4 linked regions of the Homo sapiens genome follow. Each later gene encodes a partner of the first gene's protein in a complex. Each region holds a gene or a part of one and is shown in the gene's direction. Other genes may lie near its edges.

Evidence for each region.
Region 2: CC2D2A (region 1) and B9D1 share a complex: the UniProt entries of both Homo sapiens proteins name them as parts of the tectonic-like complex.
Region 3: CC2D2A (region 1) and MKS1 share a complex: the UniProt entries of both Homo sapiens proteins name them as parts of the tectonic-like complex.
Region 4: CC2D2A (region 1) and TMEM67 share a complex: the UniProt entries of both Homo sapiens proteins name them as parts of the tectonic-like complex.

The regions. Positions count from the first base shown.
Region 1 is NC_000004.12:15,465,477-15,472,906, forward strand, and holds the start of CC2D2A (coiled-coil and C2 domain-containing protein 2A), read left to right. Parts: upstream 1-4,405; 5' UTR 4,406-4,581; intron 4,582-7,430. UniProt on the Homo sapiens protein: Component of the tectonic-like complex, a complex localized at the transition zone of primary cilia and acting as a barrier that prevents diffusion of transmembrane proteins between the cilia and plasma membranes.
Region 2 is NC_000017.11:19,359,714-19,367,023, reverse strand, and holds the start of B9D1 (B9 domain-containing protein 1), read left to right. Parts: upstream 1-4,300; 5' UTR 4,301-4,454; coding exon 4,455-4,517; intron 4,518-6,635; coding exon 6,636-6,704; intron 6,705-7,310. UniProt on the Homo sapiens protein: Component of the tectonic-like complex, a complex localized at the transition zone of primary cilia and acting as a barrier that prevents diffusion of transmembrane proteins between the cilia and plasma membranes.
Region 3 is NC_000017.11:58,216,256-58,223,187, reverse strand, and holds the start of MKS1 (tectonic-like complex member MKS1), read left to right. Parts: upstream 1-3,932; 5' UTR 3,933-3,957; coding exon 3,958-4,037; intron 4,038-4,458; coding exon 4,459-4,568; intron 4,569-6,442; coding exon of another isoform or gene 6,443-6,451; coding exon 6,452-6,522; intron 6,523-6,932. UniProt on the Homo sapiens protein: Component of the tectonic-like complex, a complex localized at the transition zone of primary cilia and acting as a barrier that prevents diffusion of transmembrane proteins between the cilia and plasma membranes.
Region 4 is NC_000008.11:93,792,869-93,799,893, forward strand, and holds part of TMEM67 (meckelin isoform 1 precursor), read left to right. Parts: intron 1-329; coding exon 330-428; intron 429-2,540; coding exon 2,541-2,639; intron 2,640-3,032; coding exon 3,033-3,119; intron 3,120-4,265; coding exon 4,266-4,365; intron 4,366-4,462; coding exon 4,463-4,602; intron 4,603-6,749; coding exon 6,750-6,890; intron 6,891-7,025. UniProt on the Homo sapiens protein: Required for ciliary structure and function. Part of the tectonic-like complex which is required for tissue-specific ciliogenesis and may regulate ciliary membrane composition.

The DNA.
Region 1 (7,430 bases):
CCTAAAATGAGACAAGAACAATACAAGGCTGATCTCAGCTAAGAACATAAATGCAAAAATTTCTAGAAAGTGGTAATTAAATCCAATATTAATTTTTGAAGTATCTTGACAAAATTGAGTGTATCCCAGGAATGCAAGCACAATTTGACATTAAAATGCCTGATAATGCAATTCTCTACACTAATAGATGAAAGAATAAAAATAATATTTAATTATCTCAAAAGATGTAGAAAAAAGCTTGTGATAATGTGATTCAACATTTATTCTTGATGAAAAACTCTTTAGCCAACTAGGAACACTTAACCAAAAGAATGAGATTTTTGTGTTATGATTTAAAATAAATTTGCTAGATTCATTTATTTTGCTTACATAAGAACTTTTGCAAGTAATGGTGTTTTGCAATGATACTTTTTAATATTTTTGGAACTTAAGAAGTTGTATGATTCTTATGAATTAGTTCAGTATTAAAGATCAAAGAGGACGTGCCCAGCTAGCTCTGTTGGCAGACCATGAGACTTTTAAAATATCAGGGAGGTAATAATCAGACGGTTAATTAGCAAAAGAGTGGTGAACAAGTCCTTCCTCTCATGGCAGCTGACCATTTCAAGTAGATAATCTCTTACGGTAAACATTCATATTTTTCTTCACTTAATAAACCTTGCAACATTTACTATGTGCCAGGACTGTCCTAAGTGCTTCACAATTATTAACTTAACAAATTTCCTAACAACTCTCTCTGGAATAGTTACTATTATTAAACCTCAGTTTCCTACAGAGAAGGAAACTGAAACCTAGAAAGGTTAAGAAAGTTGACCGAGATCCCTCAGTTGTAAGACAGAGCATTCAACTTCTTTCTCTCTCCTCTCCTTCTGGTACTGTACTGGATATGGTGGACCTCATCAATTTCTCCCTGTATCTTTTACCTACTCTTTCCTATTTTCAATATCTCTGTGCCACATTTCAATTTTTTAAACCTATCTTTTGCATCTCTTCAGCTCTCTCATCTACAGTTTAGCACATTCTTTGACTTTTATCTAAATTTGTGACTGTATTATTTATTTCTAAAAGTTCTATCTGGTTACTTTTTGAATTTGTCTGATCTTTTTGATAGTGTCTCACTCTTCTTTCATATTTTCAAATCCTCCTTGTATCTTCTTGAATATTTGGTCATTGTTATTTTTCCACTCTCCATCTGATTATTGTATTGCAAGAAACTCTTGAGTATCTAATAGTGTCCTCTGGTTTGTCTGTGGACTCTTGAGTGTTTCTCTTCTGTTGTCTAATTTTGGGTTGTGAGCTCATCTTCCTCTGTGTTTATTTGTGGACATCCTGAATTGTCCAATTGAAGGTGTGTTCCTCCAGAAAAGTTTTGTAATAACTTCTGCCTGGCACCCCACGGGGATACAGTAGACAGAGGCCACTTTTTAAAAGTTATCACTTAGGGGCCTCCTAAAATATATAAGGAGCATAAATAAGACAAACTGCATGGTGCAAACCAATGGTTGTAAATTCTTCATATTTTTCTCACCACATGCAGAATACAAGCCAAGACAGACAAGTTTTCTTATTGTCTTCTTTTACCAGCACGAGATAGTAGATTGTCCCCTTCAATTGGAAAATACATTATTTCATACAGTTGTTCTTGTATTACTCCTTTGGTAAATTATACTTTTCCATTTTCATGGTTCTCTCTTTTTATAACTACAAGCATTAAATTTCCTAGCCTGAGATCCTTTAATGTTTTTTGTAATGCTTTTCTGTAAGGGCAATATGCTAGCTTTGTCATTGGAGGATCCAGAAATGTCAGTATGTAGGGTCTGTGCTTTATAATCATTCAGTTTTTCCAGAAAATAATTTTCTACTTTCTCCAGTTTTGTGCAGGTAGAGGTAGGATGGGGGAGCCAATGGCATGTTCTTGATTGTCTAAGTTCTTGAGAAAGGTTCAGAAAGGGCCCTGCAACATCTTCATTTCATATACAGTTTTCAATCCTGAGACACACTCACTTGCTGCAGTACCTGGGAACTTGAGACCAGAGAGTCTCTGGTTTAACTTCCCTAGAAAAGAAACCGCCAGTCTCCTTTGGGCAGCAGCAGATGAGGCAGATGTGGAGGACGGAAATTATGCCTGAGGAATGGGCATTTTTCAGGCTGCCAAGAAAAAGGATCCTGAGGATCAATCCCTTAATATACAGACTTTCAAATCTTCCTGCATTTTTAGCCCCGTATCTCTCCCCACCTTCCTTAGTCTATGGTTGTATTAGTTTCCTGATGCTGTTGTAACAAAGTACCACACACTGAGTGGCTTAAACAGCAGAAATTTTCTAACAATTCAGGAGACTAGAAATTTGAAATCAAGGTGTGGCAGGGTTGATTCTTTGTGAAGCTTCAAGAGACAGTCTGTTCCAGGCCTCTCTCCTGGCTGCTGATAGCCTTGAGTGTTCCCTGGCTTGGAGATGGTGCTCTCCCCATGTCTTCACGTTGCCTTTCTTCTATTTTGTCTGTCTCTGAATCCAAATTTCCCCTTTTGTAAGGACGCAATCATCTTGGATTAGATCTCACTCTAATGACTTCATTTTAATGTGATTACCTCTGTAAATACCCTATCTCCAAATAAGGTCCCATTCTGAGATACTGAGGTTAGGACTTCAGCATCTTTGGGGATGAGAGAGAACACAATTCAGCTATAACACTGCTGCCCCAAATCCTGGCACAGTAAATCAGCTCATTTCCTCATATTCATGCCTACGTGCACACCCCATCATACACAGACACACACACACATACATACACGTACAGAGACACAAACACAAATACATTGACACATACACATGCATGCAGGCTGTGTCAAAAAATGTACTCTGGATTTGTTTTAATTAGGTATGGTAAGACACACAGACACAAACATGATTGGCACAAAAGAAGAAGTTTATACTTAACAGATCCCTAGAAACAAGAAGCATGGTGTCTTGGTTCGTTTTCTGTTGTTGTAACAGAATACACAGACTGGGCAATTTATAATGAACAGAAATTTATTTTTCACAGTTCTGGTGGCTGGGAAGTCCAAGATCAAGGGGCTGGCATCCTGCAAGGGTCTTCTTGCTGCACCATCCTATGGTGCAAGGCAAGAAAACATGAGAGCAAGAAAGAGAAAGAGAGAAAACGAGGCCAAATTCATTCTTTTATAAGGAATCCACTCCTGCAATAATGGCATTAATGCATTTATGAGGGCAGAGCCCTACAGCCTAATTGCCTCTCATTAGGTGCCACCTCCCGACACCATTGTGTTAGGGATTAAGTTTCCAATACATGCTTTTGGGAAGACACATTCAAATCATAGAACATGGCATGCCACACAGGACCACATAGGGAAGAACCAATGTTGGTCAGAAGGCAGAACGGAGACAGCAGAGTACAGCACAGAGCCTTTACTAGGGTTTTCCCAGGAAGGAATAGGTGAAGCAGGGTAGGGTGCTGCATAAATTTAGGAGTGGATAGCTTGAATAATCGTGGTGTTCTCTGGGCTATAGTGGTCTGGTATCTGGACCTGGGGTGACTTAGGACAGGAGGAATATTGGCTTAGTGTGTGAGAGTTTGATAATGGAGATGGTTGTGTGGGCTCTGGATTGGTTGGCTTGTATATCAAAGGAGACTTTGCATATTTCAGGGGAATCATTTGCTATCTCTAGAAATTAGCTAACATAGGAGAATCAGTTTCTCCAGGATCAAGGCTCCAAATGCCAGAGCATCAAGAATACAGAAAATAAGAAGATACAGTCAATACACATACACACAAACATACACACACCATACACACAGACACAAATACACACAAACACATGTGCACATACACACTAGTCTATTGGAGTGTGTTTCCTTGGCTCCATTCATTCTATTACTCTTCCAGCTACTTTGCCTCCTACCTCTCCCTCTTTTTTTTTTTCCAACTTTTTTGAGCCATAACATTTATATCCGTTTTCAGGAATTGCAGTGGGATTCAGAGAATAGGCAAAGATTAAACTTGTGCGTTCAACCTTCCACTTTTAACTGGAAAACACTCAAGTGCAACATTTGTTGGTACTCTGCAGCACCTCCACAGAGCTTTTGCTGCTGCCACGTTAGACAGCTTCACCATGTAATGACGACCTTTTAAGATTCTAAATCCCCCCACCTCTGAGCCTGTTCTTCATTGGAAATGCAAGACGACCGGATGACATGAGGGAGGGGCAGCTCTTAAGGCTTGACCTAATTTCCAGTGCTGCTCATGTTGATTTCTCTCCGTCCTTCTACTGCAGGCTGTGCGTCTCTGCTTACCCAGCATGCTTGTACTCCACTACTGGAAGTAGCCTGTCACTTTAAAGGAAAAAAAAAAAAGCTACCGAGTGACCTTCCTTAGGAACGGGTTGCTAAGCTGGTGTTTTTGCTCCAAGACATGGCTGCAGCTTCCCAGGGAGGAGCCCAGGGGCATCTCCAACACTCAGCCTTTCCCTCCGGACCCTTTTAAAAGATTCAACAGCACCGTCTCTCTCCACTTCCATCCTAGAATGCAGAATCTGCAAAGTGCCTTTTGTAAAGTTTCTTAAGGTAAATCAGTCCCTAACCGGACTTTAGGCTGCAACAGTGATTTCCTGTTTTCAGTTACCCGGCTTGAAGTTCAGCCTCTCCAGGATACCGTGAGACTGGATTTAATGAATTGTAAATTTAGGGGCTCTCATCGTTATTTATGTTTTTACTTTCTGAAATGGGAACATAGACCATTACTTGGCAGCTTTGATTTGAGCTGCTATCTGGTATCTGGTTTGCAGGAAATGTAAGTCCAGTTCATCACAAGTCCTGAGTGAAAATGCTCTCTGACCAAAGCTCTGTGAAACATTAGCTGCGTGTTGCATTTATGGGCCTTTTAGTTCAAACTGGCTTAAGGGGAGAAGCACTAATTACTGCAAAATACACTTTTCTTGGTATGAGACAGAGAAAGGGCTACTAACCACAGTGCTAAGAGTTGCTGTGCTTTCCAAAGACTTCAAGAAAATGTACTGGCTACAACTTAAGCTGATTGTTTGTTTCCCTTCATTGCAAAGAGGTGGTATGAAAAGCTAATAAAGTCAAATAAGAAATATGTTTGCTACTGCATTTTCATATAACCTTTTCTGCAAATAAATTCAGCACCAGCATGAAATCTCTCTCTCTCTCTCTCTCTCTCTCTCTCTCTCTCTCTCTATATATATATATATATATATATATATATATATATATATATATATCCTAGAGCTCACTTATAGAGTCATTCATTCAAACATTTATGGAGCATCAACAATGCACCAGGCAATGAATTTAAGTTTAGAGTGTGCAAACATAAATTAGACTAGGTCAGAAGCTCAGAATTTGCTGGGAAAACAGACCTATAAACACATGATAAGAGTACAATGAGCTAAGTGCCATAAGAGATTTATAAAAACACTGAGAGGACAGTGGGATGACATCCAGGGAGGGGCTTCCAGTACTTAGCACATCATGTAAATGCACTGGTCATATATCACGTAACACAGCTCAAATATGGTACTCATGTGTACTCTTCAAGGCCAGTGTACATTATATCGAGCTGATTAAATGATTCTATAAAGCTATTGGTCACTAACCTTATGCTAAGGGAAACTGCAGCTGGAATAACTTGTAGAATAAGATAATGTATTCCAAAACAATGTATGTGGCACCTCCCCAGGTGTCCAAGCTCCAGGAGGGAACAGAAAAATGTTCTCAGGGTGTGAGGAAGAAAATACTCATGGGTAGAAGTGCAGGAGGTTTCAGAAGCACCATAAATGGAAACAGCAAGGCAACTGCCCTGGGCCTGGCTGAAGGGAGGGAGACATGAAACATGAGTTATGGTAGCTGGGGGTTGAAGATTGGAGCTGAAGGTGGGTGGGCTTGAACATCACCTAAGGTCTTTCTCATGACTCCTCTTCTATCCCCCAAGCTCTTTTCCCTCCTCATTCCTTTTTTCCACTTTCCCTCCCCACAATCACTTTTTCTTAGTAACAAAACCTACCAATATTGAGAGCCCAGCCTGTGCTAGGCATTTTACTACACACATTTCATCATTTAGCCCTTATAAATTAATCATCCTTCAAGGTAGGAAGTATGATTGCAATGTTGCAGACAAAAAAAAAAAAAACGTGTCTCAGAGAAGGGAGGGCATTGTTCCAAGATCACACAGCTAATAAATAAAGCTGAAGTTGGAACTCAGGTCCACATATTCCTTGGCAAAGAAATATGTGGACCACTCTTCCTATAAACCCATGTTTTTGCCATCCTGGAGTAGGGCATATATATTGTATGATTTTTTAAGCAACCAATATGGAGTTGAGATGCGTTGTATCTCAACCTCCAGGTATGGCTCTGACCCACTGATGACTCTTAGGAATAGTCCATTTATTCAGATGAAGGTGTCAGTACTTTCCTTGAAAAAATATATCTGGTTTTCTGCACTGAGTAAAATAAATCATTGGCTTAATGTAGCCTAAGCCTTTTCTCACCAGTGCAATGCTTCACAGCTTTCAACTGTAAATATTTCCAGAATAGCCCACTATTCTGGAAAGCACAGAATAATTATTGATGCCATTGCAAAAGCAAGAATAAATGGTGAGATGGAGGGGTAGAGTGGAGTGAGGGAGGACTCAGGAATCACAGAGTCTTGGGATCAAGTTCTGAATGTGACATTTAATAATTATAACTTTGGAAAAATCATGTAAATTGTCAGAGCCTCAGTTTACTCATACGCAAATTGGGGCACATACTACTAAGCCAGACATGTTATTGTGAGGACTAAAGAGAACATGTCTATAGTTAGCACAAAATAAGTGTGCAGTAAATCATAGCTATTTTGATGTTGCCAGTAGGAATATATTAACAAGTACCAGTGCATAAGATGATGGCAAACTGCATATTAAAACCAGGCAGTATTGATTTATCTTTTCTTAGCAACAGTGTTCATATAAAAAATAAATTTCGGTGTCATTTGATTTCCTTAGAAACTCATTTAAAGGAAATGATCAGGAAAGAATGAGGAAAAAAGAAAATCCCATTACATTTTTCATTTTCTACTTCTATTTTTTTCTTCCATATAAAGCATTTATTAACTTATAGAGAACTTTTTTTAGTTACTAAAATGTTTCACAGGTTTTTTTTTTTTTTCAGTTTGCAATGACCAGAGTTGTTCATTAGAGAGCTCTCATGTACTTTTGCATTTCATCTTTATTATCTGCCCCCTCATTCACTCTAGGTTATCTCCTTGCCTCTCTATTTTCTTAGCTGCTTTTACATTTTCCTTCCTCTATTTTTTGTACCCTGTGATGAGGTTTGTAGAGAAGACAATAGAATTTCAGATGCTTTATTTCCCTTTAACATGCTAATTCCCCTGTAGGGTCAGTGAAACCTTG
Region 2 (7,310 bases), on another chromosome or scaffold:
TGTCTCGTGACCGCCCTAGACATGGCTTCTGTTTATGTGCCTCTATTAAATGCTTCTTTCTGAGAAACCAGATTTGTCTGCCTCTCTCTTTGGCCTCTCAGCCCCTGTAGCTTCTGGTTTGCATGGACCTGCCCACCTAGAACCGCAGGCATACAGTACTTCAAGCCTGAGGGGAAGGGTGAGGTGAGGCCCAAGGAATCGTCAGGGACAGGCCACAAAGGGTATTGACTTTGCACCATTTGTGAAATTCAGCCGAGTGCCTGCACCAGGCATTTCAAGCAACCGGTGTTCCAAGTGTGGCCCCTCCGCTGAAGAGCCAAGAGGCAAAGACAGAAGGAAAGACCTATAAGGCCTTTGAGAGAAATGATTTGGGGACTTGGAGTCACAGGGACCCTGATTTGAATCCCAACTCTGCTTCCAACTCACTGTGATCTTGGGAAGTCGGTTTGTCTCTGAGCCTCGACTTCCCCATCTGTAAAAGGGGGCTAGGAGCACTGGTCTGGGGGGTCACTGTGAGGAGCCCAGAATCACAGGGGCTCAGGACTTCGTGGGGGTGTAAAGAGAGGGCACATGGGATTATTATTGTTACTGTTGGTCTCAGCCAGCTGCCCTCTCTGCCTCTTACCTGAGACGGGGCAGAGCAGGACTCTAAGAAGTCCCCTGCCCCAGGACCCAGGACAAGCTCCTGGGAGGAGGATCTGGAGACCCCAGCGCCAAGTCTGTATGCAGGATGCCTGCCCCTAGTGTGCACCCCAGGGCTCCCCACCCCTTGAAGGTGCTGAGGGTGGACCCCGATGACCAGGGCAGAGCAGATGGAGGGCTGTCCTCAAGGAGGCCCAGCTTCCTTAGAGATGAGTGAGCTCCCTGTCTAAAGAGAAAAGCAAGCAGAGCCGGACACCCACTTATAATGAGCTTCTGGGTGGGAAGTGGGGAGCAGACTGTGGGGCCAAGGGGAGAGGCGTTCAAGGAAGACTTCACAAGAGTGGGCTCTGAAGGCTACATAGGAGTTCTCTGGGCGGATAGGTAGGAGATGATGAGCTAGGTAGAAGGAACAGCATGTGCAAACCAGGAGGCATGAAAAAGCAGGAGCACCCCAGGAATGACTTCAGCAACAAGAATAGCTGCAATGTATACACCTACTATGTGCCCATAAACTTTTTAATTAAAAAAAAAAAAAGAATAGCTACAAATGTATGGAACTTTGACATATATTATCACATTTAATCCTCACAACAACCCCCTGGGTGTGATGAGGAAACCGAGGCTCCGAGAGGTTAAAGGACTTTCCCTGAGTCACATAGGATTCCACTGCAGGCAGTCTGATTTTGAGCTGGAGGGGTGAGGGGTGGAAGCTGGGCTGCAGAGATCGCAGGGCTGGATGGAAAGAGATGCATGGTAGACCTGCAAGGCCCTGGGACCCGGAGCTGAGCTCTGAGGCTTCAGTCTCCTGAGGTGCAGGGTCCAGGCTGGCTGAGGCCTCCAGCAAGAAGGGCCCAGACAAATGGCTTGGCCAGGCCAGCATCTTCCTGGACACCTGGTGCCGCTGTGAGGGGGCCCTCATCTCCCAAGAGTGGGTGCTCACAGGCGCCAACTGCTTTGACAGGTGGGTGCACAGCCAGGAGGGGTGGTGGAGAGGGGCTCCAGGAGGGTGGCCCCCAGCCTCTCCAGCTCTCCACCTCCCCTTCACCTCCTCTCTCCACAGTTGGCCTTGGTCCCACTTCAGTGTGACCTTGGGTCCAGATCGACTGCAGATGGACTCTTGTGAGATCAGGTTACCATGGGGGAGCTGCTCTTGTCCTCAGCAGGGCCCGAGGGCTCTGGGTTTGGTAGCCTGGTCCTGGCACAACTGGCAAGGGGCAAGGCCTCCGTCGCTCACCAGCGCTGTGCAGGCCGTCCCCCTGGCCACTCAATCCCACTGTTCCCTCTTCCTGAGACAGCTCTGCTGGGGCCAGGGGTTTGAACCCGATTTCAGTAAGGATGGGAGCAGAAGCCTGGGATGGTTGAGAGACTGGGGGAGGCAGATGGCCAGGGTGGAGCTTGGGACCCTGCAGGGGCTCTGGCCAGCTGCCCGGCAGCACCATGGCCATAGGCATGCAGGGAAGAGGGCTGGCGCTGACACCTGCTCTGCTCAAGCCAGCTTCCAGCCTCACCCCTGCCCAATGGCTGACAGCCCCGCCTGCCCAATGTGCTGGAAGCTTCCCTGAGGGGACTGCGTGGGAGTGTACCAGAGGACAGAGCTGTACTAAGAGTGAGGTGGGAGCGAGGAATGTCTAGGAGCCCAGGAAGGCATCTGGGGGTGGAGAGACTTGGCACAGGCACAGGCAGGGAAGCTCAGCAATATATGTTAACAACCAGCATGGCTGGACTGGTGCAGATCGGCTGGATGTCAGCTGGGCTGAGGGTCTGCCCCACCCCATTGCAGATCCCTACATCCCACCCCAAGAGCTGCAGAGTGTCCTGCTGAGATCGCTGTGTGTCAGCATCTGCAGAAACTACCTTCTCCTCCAACCTGACTGTCCTGACCTGAAGGACAGCCTGCCCAAGGACTTCTAGTACACCAGGCTCTCCACTGGGCCCTTGAACTGGTGGTAAGGATTCCAGCAGGCCCTATGCAAGCCCCTATGCAAGCCCCTGAGACCCCTCTCCTAAAGTCGCTTCTAATGCCACTAGACTTGTTAAAGTTAGGCCTGGTCACCCTCCCATCCTATCCTGGAGTCTTCCATTCCCCAACACCCAGGGGTCGGGCTTATTTGTACCCCTGAAGGCCACCCTAGAACTTCCCACCCCTTGGGGAGACTCCCCCATTATGTCCTATTTGAATGTGGGGCCACCTTTGGTATAGCCAGGTCTTAAACTACTGGGAGCCCCCAGTTATTCGATAACTACAAGCATTTTGCTGAAAACTAACTTGTGTGCAACACCGAGCCTCAAAGGCCAAAGGGAGGAAATAATTGGGTGAGACTGATAGAATGTGTGGGAGAAAGCACTTTAACTGGAAAGAGATGGACAGAGCGGGGGAAGAAGGGAGTATGACCCCCTCTCCAGGAGGGGAAATGGGCCCTGTCTTGGGCTCTGGGTGCAGCACTTGGGCCACCAGCCCACCCATCCCCTCCCCCAGCTGCTCTTGTCAGATGTGTGAACTGGTTACCCGCTGCCTCCCTCCCCTGATCAAATATCTTTGCTCACTAGGCAGGGGGTGGTTCAGTGGGTGCAGGCTGGGCTGAGACTGCTCCTTCCCTCCCTCGTGCAGATGGTTGATGGGACTCCCCTAGTCTGCTCCCAAGCTAGAAGCTGCAGAATGTGATGACCTGGGGTCCCTGCTCGGAGCCTGGCCTCCCGGGAGTCTACACACCTGTGAATCCCTTCATTTCCTGGATCCAAGATAATGTCTCCAACGTCTCCTTTGACACCTCTGCCAACAGATGCTGTTGGGGCTGGCCCAGGACAAGACAGAGGCAGTGAGGGTTGTTAGCCTCTGGAGTCCTGGGTTTGAATCCTGACTTAGCTACTTACCTGCCTTTGCCATCTGAATCTGTTTCCTCCTCTGTAAAATGGAGATGTCTTCAATTATTCATTTATCAACAAGTTAGTAGTTACCAAGTGCTTACTCTGTGACAGGCCACTAAGATACAAGACTGTATCTTGACAGATTCGTGGATTTTGGCTAGCAACTCCCCTGAGCGCTGGCTGATTGGGGTGCCAGGCGCCGCCCGCTGCGGGCCTCAGTTTCCCCAGCTTCGAACTAAAGAGCGATGGCTTGGATGTAAGGATTCTTGAGGTCCCTCCCAAGTTTGTTTAATAAACTTTTTCGAGGGCAAGCGTCTCCAAGCCACAGGGGCGCATCCTTTTCACCTGCTTGGACGCTGCTTGGCCCCAGCTGGGGAGGCTCCTCCGAGCACCCGGCATTCCAGAGTTAGCCCCGACAGCTGTGGTCACGTCGCCCGTGCTCTGCAGCGCCTCCCTCCGCGTCCTCGCGGTGGGGCCACAGCGACATCTAGTGGCTGAATGTATTTTAAACACTCGGCTTGCTGAGGGCGTGAGTCGGAGCGCTGCTCCCCAGGACTCAGCTCTCATTCGCCTCTGCGCTTCGGCGGGGACGGGGAGCCGGGCCGAGTCAGAGTGAACACACACTCCCTGCGCGTGCAACTGAGTCGAGCGGTAGGGCTGGCTTTACCCGACAGGTCAACGCTCCCGCCCCAGCTCTCGGTCATACCTGCCCTAAGGAGGGGTGGAGCCTCGGCGTGGATCCCCGCCCCTTGTGCCCCGCCCCCTTATAACGGCGCCCGTTCACTGCGCCTGCGCATGCCACACGCGCACTCGCGTGGCCTTCGCGAAGGTGTCGCTGCCAAGAAACGTGTCCTGCGCGCTACGCCGTCTGTTTCTAGGGCAACGCCGGCGTCTCTTAGCAACCGCGCGCGGCCTAGGTGGGTCCCCCCGGCACCCCCAGACCTGCCATGGCGACCGCGAGTCCTAGCGTCTTTCTACTCATGGTCAACGGGCAGGTGGAGAGCGCCCAGGTGAGCGGCCGTGGACCCCGCCGGGGCCCGCCCCCCAGCGTCCCCCGGGGCCCTTCCCGCAACCCCCCGGGCTGCCCTGTGGCCCCCGGAGAGCCACGTCATTCCTCTGAGCCTCTCGGTTAGGCGGGGGAGGGGAGCCAGCATTGGAGAGCTTGGCGCGAGGTTGCCCGGATCCTGAGTCCCGATGTGCAGGAATAGAAGCAGACCTCGAGATGTTGAGCTAGTACCGAGGTCACACTCGGGCAAGCCTGTGGGCCCTCGCACGGGTCATGCCCACTTGCTTGGATCACTGGCAGGAGCCTCCTGGGGTTAACGCGAGGAGCCGAGGCTTGGCCGAGTTTCCAGCATTTGCGCTGTGTCCCGTGTGGAGTTACTGTCCCGCGTTCTGAATCCCCAGATCCTTGAACTCGGGTTCGAATCCAACCATCCAACAATGGTGGTGGCCTGGAATTGACCCAAGGAAGGTGTGCCTGCTAGGCCCGAGGGACGCTATTCCCCATCCCCCTACACTTTAGAGGAATCATTTATTGTAAATATAAACCAACGCTCACCAAGTCCTCAATATGTCCCAAAGTCGGTGCTCCGCACTGGTCCACCCTTACAGCCTTACCAGATAGGCACTACTAACACCCCCATTTTACAGCTGGGGAAATATACCAAAGGAACTGGCCTGTCTGGGAATTGAACCCACGCCTATCTGACCTCAAAGCTTCACTACACTGTCCTTCCAGGCTGTTGGAGGTGGTGTTTATTATTATTTTATAATATTATTGTGAGGATTGACTGAGACGGTTTGGGTAAGGCTCTGACAGGGCCTGATGCTTTGTAGGTGTCTCCTGCCTTCCTATTTCATCAGGGATACTACTCCATGCTCCCACCCTGTCCGCCTCTGCCTTAGCCTAGTGCCTAAGACCGTCTTTCCCCACTCTCCTGTCCTTTCCTATTAGGGGCTCTCGGCTGGGCTGAGTCACATGTGTCTGTGCTCTCAGCATCAGCGACCCCCCCGCCACACACACACTGACAGTCACACTGTTCCTCCCTGCTCTGCTCTCAGCACCTCCCTCTTTTCAGGGCCTCAGCTCCAGCCTTGCATATGATGGCTTCCTGGGTTCTCAGACCTTTCACTTCAGCACCATTCCCTTACACCAGTGGTCCTCAACCTTTTTGGCACCAGGGACTGGTTTTGTGGAAAACCAGGTGGCGAGGGATGGTTTTGGGATGATTTGGGGACATTACATTTATTGTGCACTTTATTTCTATTATTACCTTGTAAATAATAATGAAATAATTATACAACTCACCATAATGTAGAATCAGTGGGAGCCCTGAGTTTGCTTTCCTGCAACTAGATGGTCCCATCTGGGTGTGATGGGAGACAGTGACAGATCATCATGCGTTAGATTCTCATAAGGAACATGCAACCTAGATCCCCCACATGTGCAGTTCACAGTAGGGTTCGTGCTCCTATGAGAATCTAATGCCGCCACTGATCTGACAAGGAGGTGGAGCTCCCGTGGTCATGCGAGCAATGGGGAGCAGCTGTAAATACAGTTGAAGCTTTGCTTGCTCGCCTGCTCCTCACCTCTTGCTGTGTGGACCCGTTCCTAACAGGCCACGGACTGGTTGAGGACCCCTGCCTTAGACCTTATCTGTGCCCAGCCCTGTGCCAGGCAGTGGGGACACAGAAAGGCATTAAATCTCTTCTCTACTCATGGTCTAGAGGAACTGACAGACTTAGACACAGGCAATCATTGCTTTTATGGAGGGAAGCACGGGGCTAAGGGAGCCAAGAGGAGACCTTAAACCAGCTTGAGAGTTAGAGCAGGCTCCCTGAAGGGTAAGTTTTGAAGGGTGAGCAGGAGTTTTCCGGATGAAGTAGGAAGGACAAATCAGACAAGGCAGAGCCTGAGCAAAAGCCAGGGGCCGTGGCACCTGGGAGTCTCCCGTGGACTCCCGCTTCTTGGTCCTCAGCCTCTCCTCTGAACACATCTCCAGCCGTCTCTTAGACCCACTCCCAGGTGTCTCACGTTCAGAATTCCCCTTGGCTGCACCTGCCTAGCAAATGCATTGGCCTCAGCATGAATACCAGTCGACAGAATCTGTCTGTGCTTTTTTCAGTTTCCAGAGTATGATGACCTCTACTGCAAGTACTGCTTTGTGTACGGCCAGGACTGGGCCCCCACAGCGGTAAGCTGGACTCTTGGGCCTCCCTTACCGCCTTCATGACTTTTGGGGTTTCTGAAGGTGTCATATCCTTCCCCTCCCCATTCAGAACAAGTTAAGAGGTAGAGACTGAGTTCAGGGGAACCCAAACATGAGTGTTCCTGGTAAAGCGGGAGCAGAGGACACAGCCATGGTTGGACTCCCTGATCCATCCACCAAGACTGCACTCAGAAGCCCTACCCTGTGAGCTTCCCCGGGGCAGCAAAGAGCAACACCTGCAGTAGGAGGCAGGCCCCAGTGAGCCAGCCTGGACGTGGCTGAGCTGTGGACACTCTGGCCAGTCCGCTCACCATTTGGCCTCTCCTCAGCCAGTGGGGAGGACCTGGAGTAAAAAGACAGAGTAGGAGCTCTCCTTCCAGGACTTCCCAAGGGGTAGCTTGCCTCCACCAGGTGAGGGACTGTGGTGACAACTTCAGCCCGCTCTGTGCTCTGCTGTTTGCAAAGCACTTGTTTCATCTTCATAGCAGTTTAAGAAAAGGAGACTGAACTTATTTAAGCTCTCTGAGCCTCAGTTTCCTCATTTGTACAACTGAGATGATAATCCTTCTTTTCCCTTTATTGATTGTCTTC
Region 3 (6,932 bases), on another chromosome or scaffold:
TGATAGGCCATCTACGTACAGATCTATTTTGGACTCTTTTTTTTGTTTTTTGCTTTGAGACAGAGTCTTGCTGCGTCGCCAGGCTGGTGTGCAGTGGTGTGATCTCAGCTCACTGCAACCTCCACCTCCTGGGTTCAAGCGAGTCTCCTGCCTCAGCCTCTGGAGTAGCTGGGACTACAGGTGCATGCCGCCACGCCCAGTTAATTTTTGTATTTTTAGTAGAGACAGGGTTTCACCATGTTGGCAAGGATGGTTTCAATCTCCTAATCTCTTGATCTGCCCGCCTCAGCCTCCCAAAGTGCTGGGATTACAGGCGTGATCTTTTTCAAAATTCTTTTAACCATGTAACTCCTTTGCATTTCCATATAGATGTTAAGAGTCAGCTTGTCAATTCTACAAAGAAACCTGGTGGGATTTTTACTGAGATTTAGATCATCTTGAGGATAATTACCTTAATGATATAGATTTTTCCAATCCATGGACATGTTATAGTACTCTACTTTATCCAGGTCTTCATCTTACCAATGTTTTGACATTTTAAGTGTACAAGGCTTGCACATATTTTGTTAATTTTATGTTTTGTGCTTTTGGATGTTATTTTAAATGGCTGTGATTTTTAAAATTCAAGTTCAAATGGTTTGTTCCTAGTATATAGAAATACCATTGATTTTTGTATATTGACCTTGTATTCTATAACCCTATTAGTTCTGCTGGCATTTTTGTAGATTCTTTAGGATTGTTTAGGTTCATATTGTATGTAGATATACACAATTTTACTTCTTCCTTTTAAATTATGTTCACTGCAGCGTCGACCTCCTCGGCCCACATGATCCTCCCACCTCAGCCTCCCAAGTAGCTGGGGCCACAGGCATGCACCACCAAACCTGGCTAATTTTTAAATTTTTTATAAATAAAAAATATGTTGCCCCGGTGGGTCTAAACTCCTGGGTCTAAACTCCACTGTGTCTGGCCCAAGCCATTCTTGATATCATGGTACAAACTCCTTTGAGAATCTGATAAAAGCTATGAACTCTTTCTAGAAAAATCCCCCATTCAGAATTCTAGGGAAAGGATTCATAGACTTCTTGAATCCCACTCATGGATCTCAGTTTTAAGAATCCTGGTTCATGCAAATCAAGACCACGATGAGATACCATCTCACACCAGTCAGAATGGCAATTACTAAAACGTCAGGAAGCAATAGATGCTGGCGAGGCTGTGGAGAAATAGGAACACTTTTACACTGTTGGTGGGAATATAAATTAGTTCAACCATTGTGGAAGACAGTGTGCGGATTCCTCAAGGATCTAGAACCAGAAATATCATTTGACCCAGCAATCTCATTACTGGGTATATACCCAAAGAAATATAAGCCAGTCTACTATAAAGACACATGCACACGTATGTTTACTGGAGCACTAGTTACAATGTCAAAGACATGGTACCAACCCAAATGCCCATCAGTGATAGACTGGATAAAGAAAATGTGGTACATATACACCATGTAATACTATGCAGCCATAAAAAGGAATGAGATCATGTCCTTTGGAGGGACATGGATGAAGCTGGAAGCCATCATCCTCAGCAAACTAACACAGGAACAGAAAACCAAACACTGCATGTTGTCATTCATAAGTGGGAGTTGAACAATGAGAACACATGGACGCAGGGAGGGGAACACCACACACTGGGGCCTGTCGCAAAGTCTGGGGCAGGGGGAGGGAGAGCATTAGGACAAATAACTAATGCATTCAGGGCTTAAAATCTAGGTGATGGGTTGATAGGTGCAGCAAACCACCATGGCACATGTATACTTATGTAACAAACCTGCATGTTCTGTACATGTATTCCGGAATTTAAAGTAAAAAAAAAAAAAAGGACATTCTGACACATGCTACAATATGGATTAGGTATCTAAAACAGTCAAATTTCATAGAGAGAAAATGTAGAATGGTAGTTGCCAGGGGCTGGAAGAGGGGAATGAGGAGTTACTATTTAATGGGAACAGAGTTTCAATTTTCAAAAATAAGAAAGTAGTGGCGATGGATGGTGATGATGGTTGAAAAACAAGGTAAATGTACTTAAGACCAATAAGCTGAATATTTAAACATAAAAGGATCCTGATTCATAGAAATCAGTAAACAAAACATGAAAACTTAGTTTACCTATATAAAAATAATACTAATTATGGTTGCTTACACAAATAGCTTATATTTCCATAACGTGGTATAGAAACTATTTTGCATATAATTATGTCAGATTAACTTTGTTATAAGTTAGATTTGGTTATAAAATTAAACTAGAATCAGGCTCCACTTTATCAGCTGTTGTGCATGTGGCACAGATTGCCTACTCACAATTTTAAAAGGAAACATTGGAGAGACAATTTCTTAGGAGCTAGAAAGGTGCCTTTTGTTTTATGTTAAAATTATTTCCGGCCGGGCGCGGTGGCTCACGCCTGTAATCCCAGCACTTTGGGAGGCCGAGGCGGGCGGATCACGAGGTCAGGAGATCGAGACCATCCCGGCTAAAACGGTGAAACCCCGTCTCTACTAAAAATACAAAAAATTAGCCGGGCGTAGTGGCGGGCGCCTGTAGTCCCGGCTACTTGGGAGGCTGAGGCAGGAGAATGGCGTGAACCCGGGAGGCGGAGCTTGCAGTGAGCCGAGATCCCGCCACTGCACTCCAGCCTGGGCGACAGAGCGAGACTCCGTCTCAAAAAAAAAAAAAAAAAAATTATTATTTCCCAGGTTGGAAATGTGTGCGTTTATGGAATAAATTGGTAGGTGAGAGGCTGTGAGGCAAACTGGAAGGTGGTTAGGCTTCAAAAGACAGAAGAACTTGGGCTAGAATCCCAGTACTTTTACCACTTGCAAGCTAGCAAGTCCTTTAAACCCTGGCCTTCACGAACTTCATTTTTAAAGTGAATAAAAGTACCTTTTTGAGAGGCTTCTACAAGGATTTGGGACAATGCAAACAAAAGTGCTCAAGCTGCACTAGATCCTAAATAAATGGTGCTATTTATGGTGAGTCGGTGTTACACAACTAGTGGCTATGGCACCCAGAGCTTCCAATGCCAAATCATCAAACTGGCATGAGATTCCCGAGTTCAGGGGACAATTGCTTACTTTGTTGGAGGAGGACTAGATGTGAACAAGGCTGATAAATGTTGACATTCCCAAAGTGCCGGGACGCCAGACGTGAGGTTACAGCATGTCCTTCCTTTGCTAGTACAACGAAGCATGACTTGTGAATGTCACTTTTTTGGCTTTTCAGGAAGCCAGTGCAGTAACAAAGTGGCTTAATGATCCAAAACTAACATACACAAGGTAAGAATCAGTTCAATAATAACATCGTTTCCTTCCTTACTGTTGACTTCCTTGTTTTTTCTTTCTTTGCTCAGTGAATATCAACACAAAGACTAATAAATCTTCTGACACTTTTTTTGTCTTCCAAGAATATATTTTCTTGTCTGGCTAAGGGCCATCACCTTCCCTGACTCCTTTGGGAATAATGGGTGCATTTCTTACAGTCACATCACCCGATTTTCAGGCCAAAGTTTTCACGCGTTGGGTGGAAGGCAGTGTGGCATGGTGGAAAAGGTAGAGGGCGAAGACTCAGGCCACCTGGTCCCCGTCATCATTTCTGCATCTATCTGTCTATATGAAGTGGGCTGATGGCTGTGCCAGTTTCCTCATTTGCACAGCGCACGAGGTCCCGCTTTCGGTGAGCTTTTATCGCATACATGGTAAGCGGTGATCGGTAGGACCCCGGAGCCCTCTTGGGCGTTCGGCTTGGGCTGCACTTGCACTGTGTGGCCAACTGCGACCGTGGCGCCGTGACGGGAACGGCGGGTTGCGCGCGCAGCACCTCCGTCGCCTCCCGATCCAGCGTCTCCGTTGCCAGGAAAACAGAGCGGCGCGCTTTCCGGCGCAGTCGCGGCGCGTCGCAGCTGTCATGGCGGAGACCGTCTGGAGCACTGACACCGGGGAGGCAGTGTATCGCTCCCGGGACCCCGTGCGCAACTTGCGCCTCCGGTAGTCGCACCGCCCCAGCCCCGAGGCCCCATGCTTTTGTGTCCTTAGATCATTCCAACCTGAGCTCGGTGTTCTGAGGTCCCCACTTTCTGCTTACAATCCCGACCACTTCTCCGGGCTCCCCACTTCTTTCACTATCCGTACCCCCATCCACTCACAGCCTCTAAGAACCCCTTACAGACCTACCCAAGTCCATTCACGTCTTTGTTGCTCCCAGTTTCTCAAAGCCCTGTGCCCCCAGTACACCCTCTCCCCTTCATTCTTCCCCATAGGACGGCGCACCCACCCACCTCCTCTCCGTTGTCTGCACCCAGCACACCTTGGCAACCCTACCTCCTCTGTTTTGTTTCCCCCATCCTTGCTTTGTGTTCATCTCCTGGTTGCGTGTCTGGTAACGAATATTTTGGGCTTTTCTTGACAGAGTCCACCTGCAAAGAATCACATCAAGCAACTTTCTTCATTATCAGCCTGCTGCCGAGCTCGGGAAGGACCTCATAGACTTGGCCACTTTTAGGCCTCAGCCAACTGCCAGTGGGTGTTACGGTGGTGATGTGCCATCTAATACTAATTATGATACTAATCAGAATTGTGGCCAAATGTAGTGAGATAACAAATACTATACTTCTGATATGTTATAGAGTTGCCCGGCAACCTACATTCTATTTGTGGCTTTTTTTTTTTTTTTTTTTTTTTTTTTTTTTTTGAGACGGAGTCTTGCTCTTTCCCCCAGGCTGAAGTGCAGTGTCGCTATCTCCGCTCACTGCAAGCTCCGCCTCCCGGGTTCACGCGATTCTCCTGCCTCAGCCTCCCGAGTAGCTGGGACTACAGGCGCCCGCCACCACGCCCGGCTAATTTTTTGTATTTTCAGTAGAGGCGGGGTTTCACCGTGTTAGCCAGGATTGTCTCGATCTCCTGACCTCGTGATCCGCCCGCCTTGGCCTCCCAAAGTGCTGGGATTACAGGCGTGAGCCACCGCGCCCGTCCTATTTGTGGCATTTTTAAAAGAGAAAACGTGCCCCAAACCCTAAATACACATATAAACACTTTTAAAAACAATTTTTAAACTGGAGACTGCTTGCAAAATCTGCATATGATGTGCATGTATAGATCAACTGTGTTCTTGTGGTTTTCCTTATCTGGGAAACCAAAAGAATGAGGAGGAGAGGACAGAGTGGTTGTTGTCAGGTCACTAGTCTGTTTGCTTTTATTGTTTCTCTTTCTGTTCAGAGCTGTTCCTGGGCAAGAGTGTGGGCTCACAGGTTGTGAAACGTGTCTCTGAAAAAGGCATACCCAAGAGTGTATTAGATTAGATTTGTTTTCTTTGTTTTTGTTTTCGTTTTGTTTTGAGACAGAATCTCATTCTTCTGCTCAGGCTGGAGTGCAGTGGTATGATCATAGCTCACTGTAAACCTTGGTCTCCCAGGCTCAAGCCATCCTCCTGCCTCAGCCTCCCAACTAGCTGGGACTACAGACTCACACTCAGTTTATTTTTTTTTAAAGTTTTAGTAGAGAAAAGGTCTTGCTATGTTGTCCAGGCTGGTTTCAAATTCCTGGGCCCAAGTGATCCTCCCACCTTAGCCTCCCAAAATGTTGGGATTACAGGCGTGAGTCACTGCATTCAGCCAGATTTGGTTCTGTTAAAAAATCATTTATTTGCCTTCACTGTCCTCTCCTTACACTTGGTCTCCTAAATTTCAGTGTTTGTGATTCTACATATATGGCTTTAGAAATAGTAAAGATAAAAATGCCAGGGTTATTTTCTAGCAAATGCAGACAGTTGGGACTGAGGAAGGGCTGGCTATTCAGCTTATATCTAAATTTCAGTTTCTTATATCCAGTTAGATTAGATATTTCCTGGAGCGGGCTGAGCGCCGTGGCCCACGCCTGTAATCCCAGCACTTTGGGAGACCAAGGCAGGTGGATCACCTGAGGTCGGGAATTCAAGATCAGCCTGGCTAACATGGCAAAACTCCATCTCTACTGATAATACAAAAATTAGCTGGGTTGGTGGTGTGTGCCTGTAATCCCAGCTACTTGGGAGGCTGAGGCAGGAGAATCGCTTGAACCCAGGAAGAGGAGGTTGCAGTGAGCTGAAACAGTGCCACTGCACTCCAGCTTGGGTGACAGAGTGAGACTCCATCCCCCCCAGAAAAAAATTCCTGGGGGGTATTTTCTTTTATTCAAATTAGAGTCATGACTAAGACTTCCTGGGTTCTAATCTTGGCTTCTACTCATACTAACTCTCATATACAGCCTCTCTAGCATTTCTCTAGGTTGAGTGCTTACTAAATTGCTGAATTCCAGCTAGTTTTTGTGGCAAATATAAGAATAGGGACTTTGGTTATAATAAACCACAGAACAAGAAGTGGTGCTGGTTTGGCTCAAGCATTTGATTCACTCTGTTGTCTTTGGAGGTGGACACCGCCCAGAGGAAGACGAAGAGGAGGAGATTGTGATTGGGTGGCAGGAGAAGCTCTTTAGCCAGGTGAGCCAGTGTCTCTTGTCTTCTCTGTCTATTCCATCTGGTCTACCTCCACATGGCTGGTGATACATATTGCCAAAGTGATTTCCAGACAGGTTGTAACAGTTTATACTTTCCCCTGTTGTGTTTAAAGGGCATTGTAACATAGGGATTGCCACTACTCAGTTTTGTGATTCTGGGTGAGGAACTTTTCATCTCTGGGCTATATGCCATCTGTAATAGCAGACTTGGATTAGACTATCAGTCTGGTTCCTTTTAGCTCTAATGTTCTTGGTTCCCCTGCCATTCATTAGTTTAGTGTTGGTTATGAAAACATGTCAGATAGCATCAGTTCTGTAGAACTGATTTGATTAAACAGTTACAGAAGCAAAAGTTTGATGTATTATAATGATGTACACATCTCTGTTTCCTTA
Region 4 (7,025 bases), on another chromosome or scaffold:
TTCATGCCATTCTCCTGCCTCAGCCTCCCCAGTAGCTGGGACTACAGGCACCCACCACCATGCCCAGCTAATTTTTTGTATTTTTAGTAGAGACGGGTTTCACCGTGTTAGCCAGGATGGTCTTGATCTCCTGACCTCATGATCCGCCTGCCTCGGCCTCCCAAAGTGCTGGGATTACAGGTGTGAGCCACTGTGCCCGGCTGACTCCTGTGTCCTTTCAACATTTCCCACCCCACCATTTTTTTGAGCACTTCCTTACTTGTTCACAGTGTTTTTGAACACCGATGACAGAAATTACATAAATTCTCAATTGTTCTTTTGTTTTTTAGATTGCTTTGGGTGTATTGGGTGGGCTAGCTGTTTTAGCATCTCTTTTGAAGACAGCAGGATGGAAGAGGCGCATTGGGAGTCCCATGATTGATTTACAGGTATAATCTCAGGAGTTTTTTAAGAATATTTTTATCTTTTGACCATTCTGGATCCTTCTCATAAGACACAGCTAGAGAATAAGTAAAAAAGTTGCATTGAATTTTTCTGGGATATGTAATTAGGGTAAGTATTGCTGGGTCATATGGTATATGTGTACCTCATTTTCTTCCCACCATACTGTATGCCAGTCTATATTCCCACCAGCAATGCTCTTCTTATTTCTGCACATACTTGGCAACACTTGATATTTTTCCAACCTTTTCATTTTTTGCCAACCTCATGGCATATAGTAGTATGTCATTGTTGATTTCATTTTCATTTCTCTGTACTCTTCATATACATTTTAATCGTTTGGGTTTCTCCTTCTGTGAACTGCCTGTTTATATCCCTTGCCCATTTCTCTATTATGTTTCCAGTTTTTATTGTTTATTTGAAGAATTTTTTTTTGTATTTTCTAAATAGTAACCCCTTTTTGGTTTCTGATGTTGAAATATATGACCAAATAAATATGTGACCCATCCGTTATTTTTATCCATGTAGTCCTTTGTTTAACAGAAACTTTCAGGTTTGTTTTTGTTTTCATTTTTGTTTTTTTTTGTTGTTGTTTTTTTGAGACGGAGTCTCACTCTGTCGCTGAGGCTGGAGTGCAGAGGCACAATCTTGGTTCACTTGCAACCTCTGCCTCCCGGGTTCAAGCAATTCTCCTGCCTCAGCCTCCTGAGTAGCTGGAATTACAGGCGCACACCACCATGCCTGGCTAATTTTTGTATTTTTAGTAGAGACGGGGTTTCACCATGTTGTTCAGGCTGGTCTTGAACTCCTGGCCTCATGATCCGCCCACCTCAGCCTCCCAAAGTGCTGGGATTACAGGCATGAGCCACCACGCCTGGCCAGAAACTTTTGGTTTTGATATCATCATATCTGAATATTTTTTTTCATGTTATGATACGTGCTTTTGGGATCTTGTTTAGGAAAACCGTCCCTATATCAAGATCACAAAGATAGTCCACATTTTATTCTATTAACTTTATACTTTCACTTCATGGTTAACCTTTTATTTTTATTAAACATTTAAAAAATATTTACCATGTACCAGGCACTTTTTAAAGCTTTATGTATGTAATTTTCTGAATCCGCACAGTAGCTCTTTGAAGTTAGGTTATTATTATTATTTGCGTTTTACACGTGATGAAATTGAGGTAAAGGTTAAATTTTCTACTCACTTGATTTTTGCAACTCAGTAATAGGTATTTCCGTTTTGTTGATGAAGAACATGAGAAAGGTTACATGGTAGCTTTAACCAAAGTATCTTTCTGATTCCAAAGCCAGTGGGCTAAGGAATCAGCAGGGGTACTTGATTTACTACTTGGGATAGTCCAGAAAGGCTTCCCAGAGAAATGAACTTTAAGTGGGATTATCTGTTCATTCTATAATAGTCACTGAGGCTCTATTGTCTAAGTGTCTGGCACTCTACCAGGAGCTGGAGAATGTGTTAGTGAGCAAAGACAGACATAGTCTGTGCTCTCAGAAATCATGAGAACTTACCAGAGAGGGGAAGAGAAGAATATTTGGTAAAACAATGCCCATTTTATTCCAGAAAGTATTTGAGATGAACGTATGGAGTGGTTAGTCATTGACTACATGGCTGGAACTGGCAGATGAGGCTAAAAAGTTAATTTTGGCCCATATTGTGAAAGACCTTGTGGATCAGGAATTTATATTGCAATGAGGAGTTGTTCATTTTTAACAAGGGGAGTGACACAATCCAATTTACATCTTAGAAAACTAACTCTGGTGGTAGTGTGGAGGAGAGATTAGAGGGGAGGATTCCCAACTAAGAGAAAATTAGGAAGCAGTTCAATTTTCTTAGATAGTGAAAGATGAGAAGAGTTGAAAGAAGAGGCTACCAGGAACGGCCAGAAAGGTAAGGAGCCAAAAGGTAGCAAGGAGGAGGAAGCAGGTGGTCTTTATAGCTGGATCATATGGGGATATGTGAAACAAGGCTTCAGGCTTAAGAAATGGAGTGGATGATGTATAAAAGTGGTAGTGTTACTAAAAGTGGTATATACATGGAGTCTTAAACAGCTGTAATTCTTTTTTTTAAATTGCAGACAGTTGTGAAATTCTTGGTGTACTATGCTGGTGATCTGGCCAATGTTTTCTTTATCATCACAGTGGGAACAGGTCTTTACTGGCTTATTTTCTTCAAAGTGAGTGAGTTTCTGAATTTTCCCCAACTGCCAATATCTGAATAGTTGAAAAGCTTTCTTTATAAAGGAACTATTTTTATTTGAGAGAATTTTTGATCAACAGTATTAAGAAAAGTTCCCAACTCCCCATTCCTTGAGTGTGCTGAGCTTATCGATTACATCACTATCTTCCTCTTTTATGCTTTCTTTGGTTTATAAATTGTGCTTAGTAAAAACCTTGTTCAATTGGAAGACTTAGGTGGGAGGATCCTGTGAGTCCAGAATCAAGTCCTGCCCGGGCAGCATACTGAGACCCTCCTTTCCCAAAAAAAAACAAAAACGAAAACAAAAAACAAACAAACAAACAAAAAAAACTGTGTGTGATAATATTTAATCAAGTAATTTTTATTATAGGCACAGAAGTCTGTGTCTGTTTTGCTGCCAATGCCAATTCAGGAAGAACGTTTTGTCACTTATGTTGGATGTGCCTTTGCTCTGAAGGTAAGTTTTAAAGGACAGGTTACCAAATTTAAAAGGCCTGCTAATGAACTAACAAGTCTTTAAAATTAAAATGCTTTCAAAAATCTTTGGCGTGAAATTCACTTTGGTTTTGAAAGAAAGCATTAATTATTTTATGTGGTAAATTTACTTTTATTTATAGTAGATGCTCAGTCTGAAACTCTGCCTTAAATATTTTTTTCAAAGAAGCCATGAATTTGTATGGCTTATTTGATAAAATGATATTTCAGTATATAACTTTCTTTAAAGTCTGATGATACATTCACAATGGGACAAAATGTCTTCAGGCATGAATTTTGTCTCCATTAATCAAGGGTAAAAGGTACCACTCTGGATAAAGTGTTGAGATCTTAAAAGTTGTTTTGTCTGTCTCCAGATTCCTTTGCTCCTTTCTTCCTATGGCCCCCCAATCCCCAACTCAGTGTTCTCCATCAATGTAGGTGAATCTCTTTATATGCCTGTTGGTAGTCCTTATCCTATTTTACTGTGAGTGTTAAGTGTCTGCTTTTTCCACTGACTGGGAGCTTCTTGAGGTGAAGTATCTCATACTTAGATTTTTATCCTTTATTTGATGAATAATGCAGCAACTAGAAAGAATGCCTCAGTTTAAACATATTGCTTGTATAAATAAGAAAGATGTGTTTCAACAGCACATTCTTTAAAAATCAGAAATCTGAATAGCAGAAATAGAAAAAAAAGACAGTAAGAGCATTCGAAAACTTTAATTAGGAAAAACAAACTATAGTTGAAAATATCTTTACTTATAAAGAAGTCAGCTGATCTACAAAACAAAGTGTGCTTCTAGAATCTTTGGGAAAGAGTCAATTATATAAGTCCCTATGTGAGGAGGAGGAAAAATGTCTCCTCTTTTCATATTCCTATTTTAAAGAAAGAAAGAAAAAGGGAAGGTAAATTAAGATGTATATGAAAATTCTGTGAATTTGATGATTCCAGGTTATCTGATGAGCTTCTAATGATTCCTTAGTGGTATTATAACTTCATGTGAATTCACTCATAAAATTATATGTTCTTGTGATAACAGTATGTTTCTTAAAGAGTCAATATTGGTTTTATAAGCAGACTTAACGCTGGTACTTTTTCAGGTGTTTTATTATATGTCATTCTCAGGCACTACAATTTTTGCATAAGCTCATATCCCAGATTACAATAGATGTATTCTTTATTGATTGGGAGCGACCTAAAGGAAAGGTTCTTAAAGCTGTTGAAGGTAACTGAAATAAAAAATATTTGTACCAAAATTCTTTTGCTACCCTTGCAGAGCAAAGGAGGTAAAACTCTTTTACTCATTTTATTTTCCTGACCAGGTGAGGGTGGTGTACGAAGTGCCACTGTTCCTGTAAGCATATGGAGAACATATTTTGTAGCAAATGAATGGAATGAAATTCAGACTGTGAGAAAAATTAATTCACTCTTTCAAGTACTTACTGTCCTCTTCTTTTTGGAGGTATAAACTGTTTGATGTGATTATATGCGACTTACATGTACCTTATAAATATTAAACTAATATAATTCCAACTAAGTTTTCATGACAGTGGAAGATTTCTCTAAAGGTTGAAATATTGTTGTGAAGCCATTAAAAAGGAGTACCTTTATGTTACGTATTTTACCACAATTCTTTTTTTAAGTTTACCATCTTAAGCATTTTTAAGTGTAGAGTTTAATAGTGTTAAGTTGGCCAGGCACAGTGGCTCATGCCTGTAATCCCAACACTTTGGGAGGCTGAGGCAGGCGGATCACCTGAGGTTGGAAGTTCAAGACCAGCCTGGCCAACATGGAGAAACCCCGTCTCTACCAAAAAATACAAAATTAGCTGGGCATGGCGGCACATGCCTATAATCCCAGCTGCTCGGGAGGCTGAGGCAGGAGAATTGCTTGAACCCGGGAGGCGGAGGTTACAGTGAGCCGAGATTGCACCATTGAACTCCAGCCTGGGCAGAAAGAGCAAAACTCCATCTCAGAAAAAAACAAACAAACAAAAAGTAGTGTTACGTACATTCACATTGCCACGCAAAATCATCATCACCATTCATCTTAGAACTCTTCATCTTGCAAAACTGAAACTCTATACCCCTTAAACAACTCTGTACCCATTCCCTGCTACACCTAACCCCAGGCAACCACCATTCTATAATACTTTCTGTCTCTGTGTGTTTGACTGCTCTAGGTGTAAGGAGTAGCTTTAAAACCACTGGTTTGTATCAGAATCCCTTGGGGATCTTTTGTAAAATACCTATGCTCAGGCTCACCCTTAGAGACTATGTGTTGATTTAGTAGCTTTGAGGTAACTCCAGGTATCTATATTTTGAAAAAGCTCCCTACCCCCGATCCATATTCTCCCCTGCATTAGAATCACTATTATAAGTTTGATATTTTTCAACAAATTTGTATTGAACACTTACTGTAGACTATGTTCTGTGCTAAGAGCTGGGGCTACACTGAACAAAACACAACATGTTTGTGATACATATGCAGTTATTTCATGGATTTGGTTGGAATTATTAAAGGAAGTATTCAGTACTGAGTATAAGACTGAACATGGAAACAGTTTATATGGGAATAGGTTTTCTCAGGAATTATCTGCTTAATTAAGATTGAATATAAATCATTAACTCTTAGGTCTGTCTGTCTGCCTTCCCTCTTTTTTCTTCTTTCTTTCCATTCTCTTTCCCCTTTCCCTTCCTTTCCTTTTATAAAACTAGTAGAAGAATGTTTGTATCCCTAGGGCTTTAAAATAATATGAACAAGACTTCCAAAGTTCACTTGAAGTGGTATTTTGGTTTTTCTTAAATGGACAGATAAAAATTACATATGTTTATAGTTTACAATACAGTGTTTTGATATATGTATTCATTGTGGAATGGCTAAATCAAGCTAGTTTATCTGTTACCTCACATCTTTTCTTTTTGTACTAAAGTAGTGTGTGTGTGTGTGTGTGTGTGTGTGTGTGTGTGTGTGTGTTTAAGAGTTTCCTCAGCTTTAAAAGGTGTTATGTGAAAAAGTTTTATGGTCAAGTAAGTTTGGAAAATATTGGATTCAGTATAATCATGTAGCACCTTTTACTGTAAAACTTCTCAGAGCCTTTATTCTACAAGGGTGGGAGGCATGGAGGTGAGTGTAATGGATGGACCAAAAGTATTTAAACATAGATTCTTTTTTCAAGAACTTATGTCCTTTAGAAGACATTTTGTAATATACTGTTTTAAAGTATAAAAATGTTTAGTACAGTGCCTGGCACATGTCAAATACTCATGAAATACTACTTGTTGGTTTCACTCATTGGTAGTTTACTGATGAAAGTTTTATCCTTTTAATTAAATTTTTAGTCTTGTCAGTGTGTATGACAATAAGGTTATATTTGGCCCTTAGTCATATTGAGAAGAATGCCAAATGAGCTAACTAAATATTGTGTAATAAATACTTTGTAGTTAAAATACTATATAATAATTATTTTTATCTAGATTTTCTACTGTTTATACAAACTTAGATATTTTAGTTTTTCAAGGTGAGTAGGGAGAGGTTTTCTGTTTTCAGTCTAGAGTAGTTTTCTTTATCCATGTCCGTTTAAATTACTACTTTTCCTTTTTACTCCAGGTTGTGGGATTCAAGAACTTAGCATTAATGGACTCATCTTCTAGTCTTTCTAGAAACCCACCTAGCTACATAGCTCCTTATAGCTGCATTTTGAGATATGCAGTGTCTGCTGCTCTTTGGCTAGCCATTGGAATTATACAGGTAAGGAATTATACAGGTAATATTACTTCTAAGTAACATTGCTTCTTTATAACTCTGCCTAATTACTGATTATCATCAAATATTGACCACATCCTTCTTTCTGTAGCAGAAAGAAGGTGACAAGAACAATAGCTA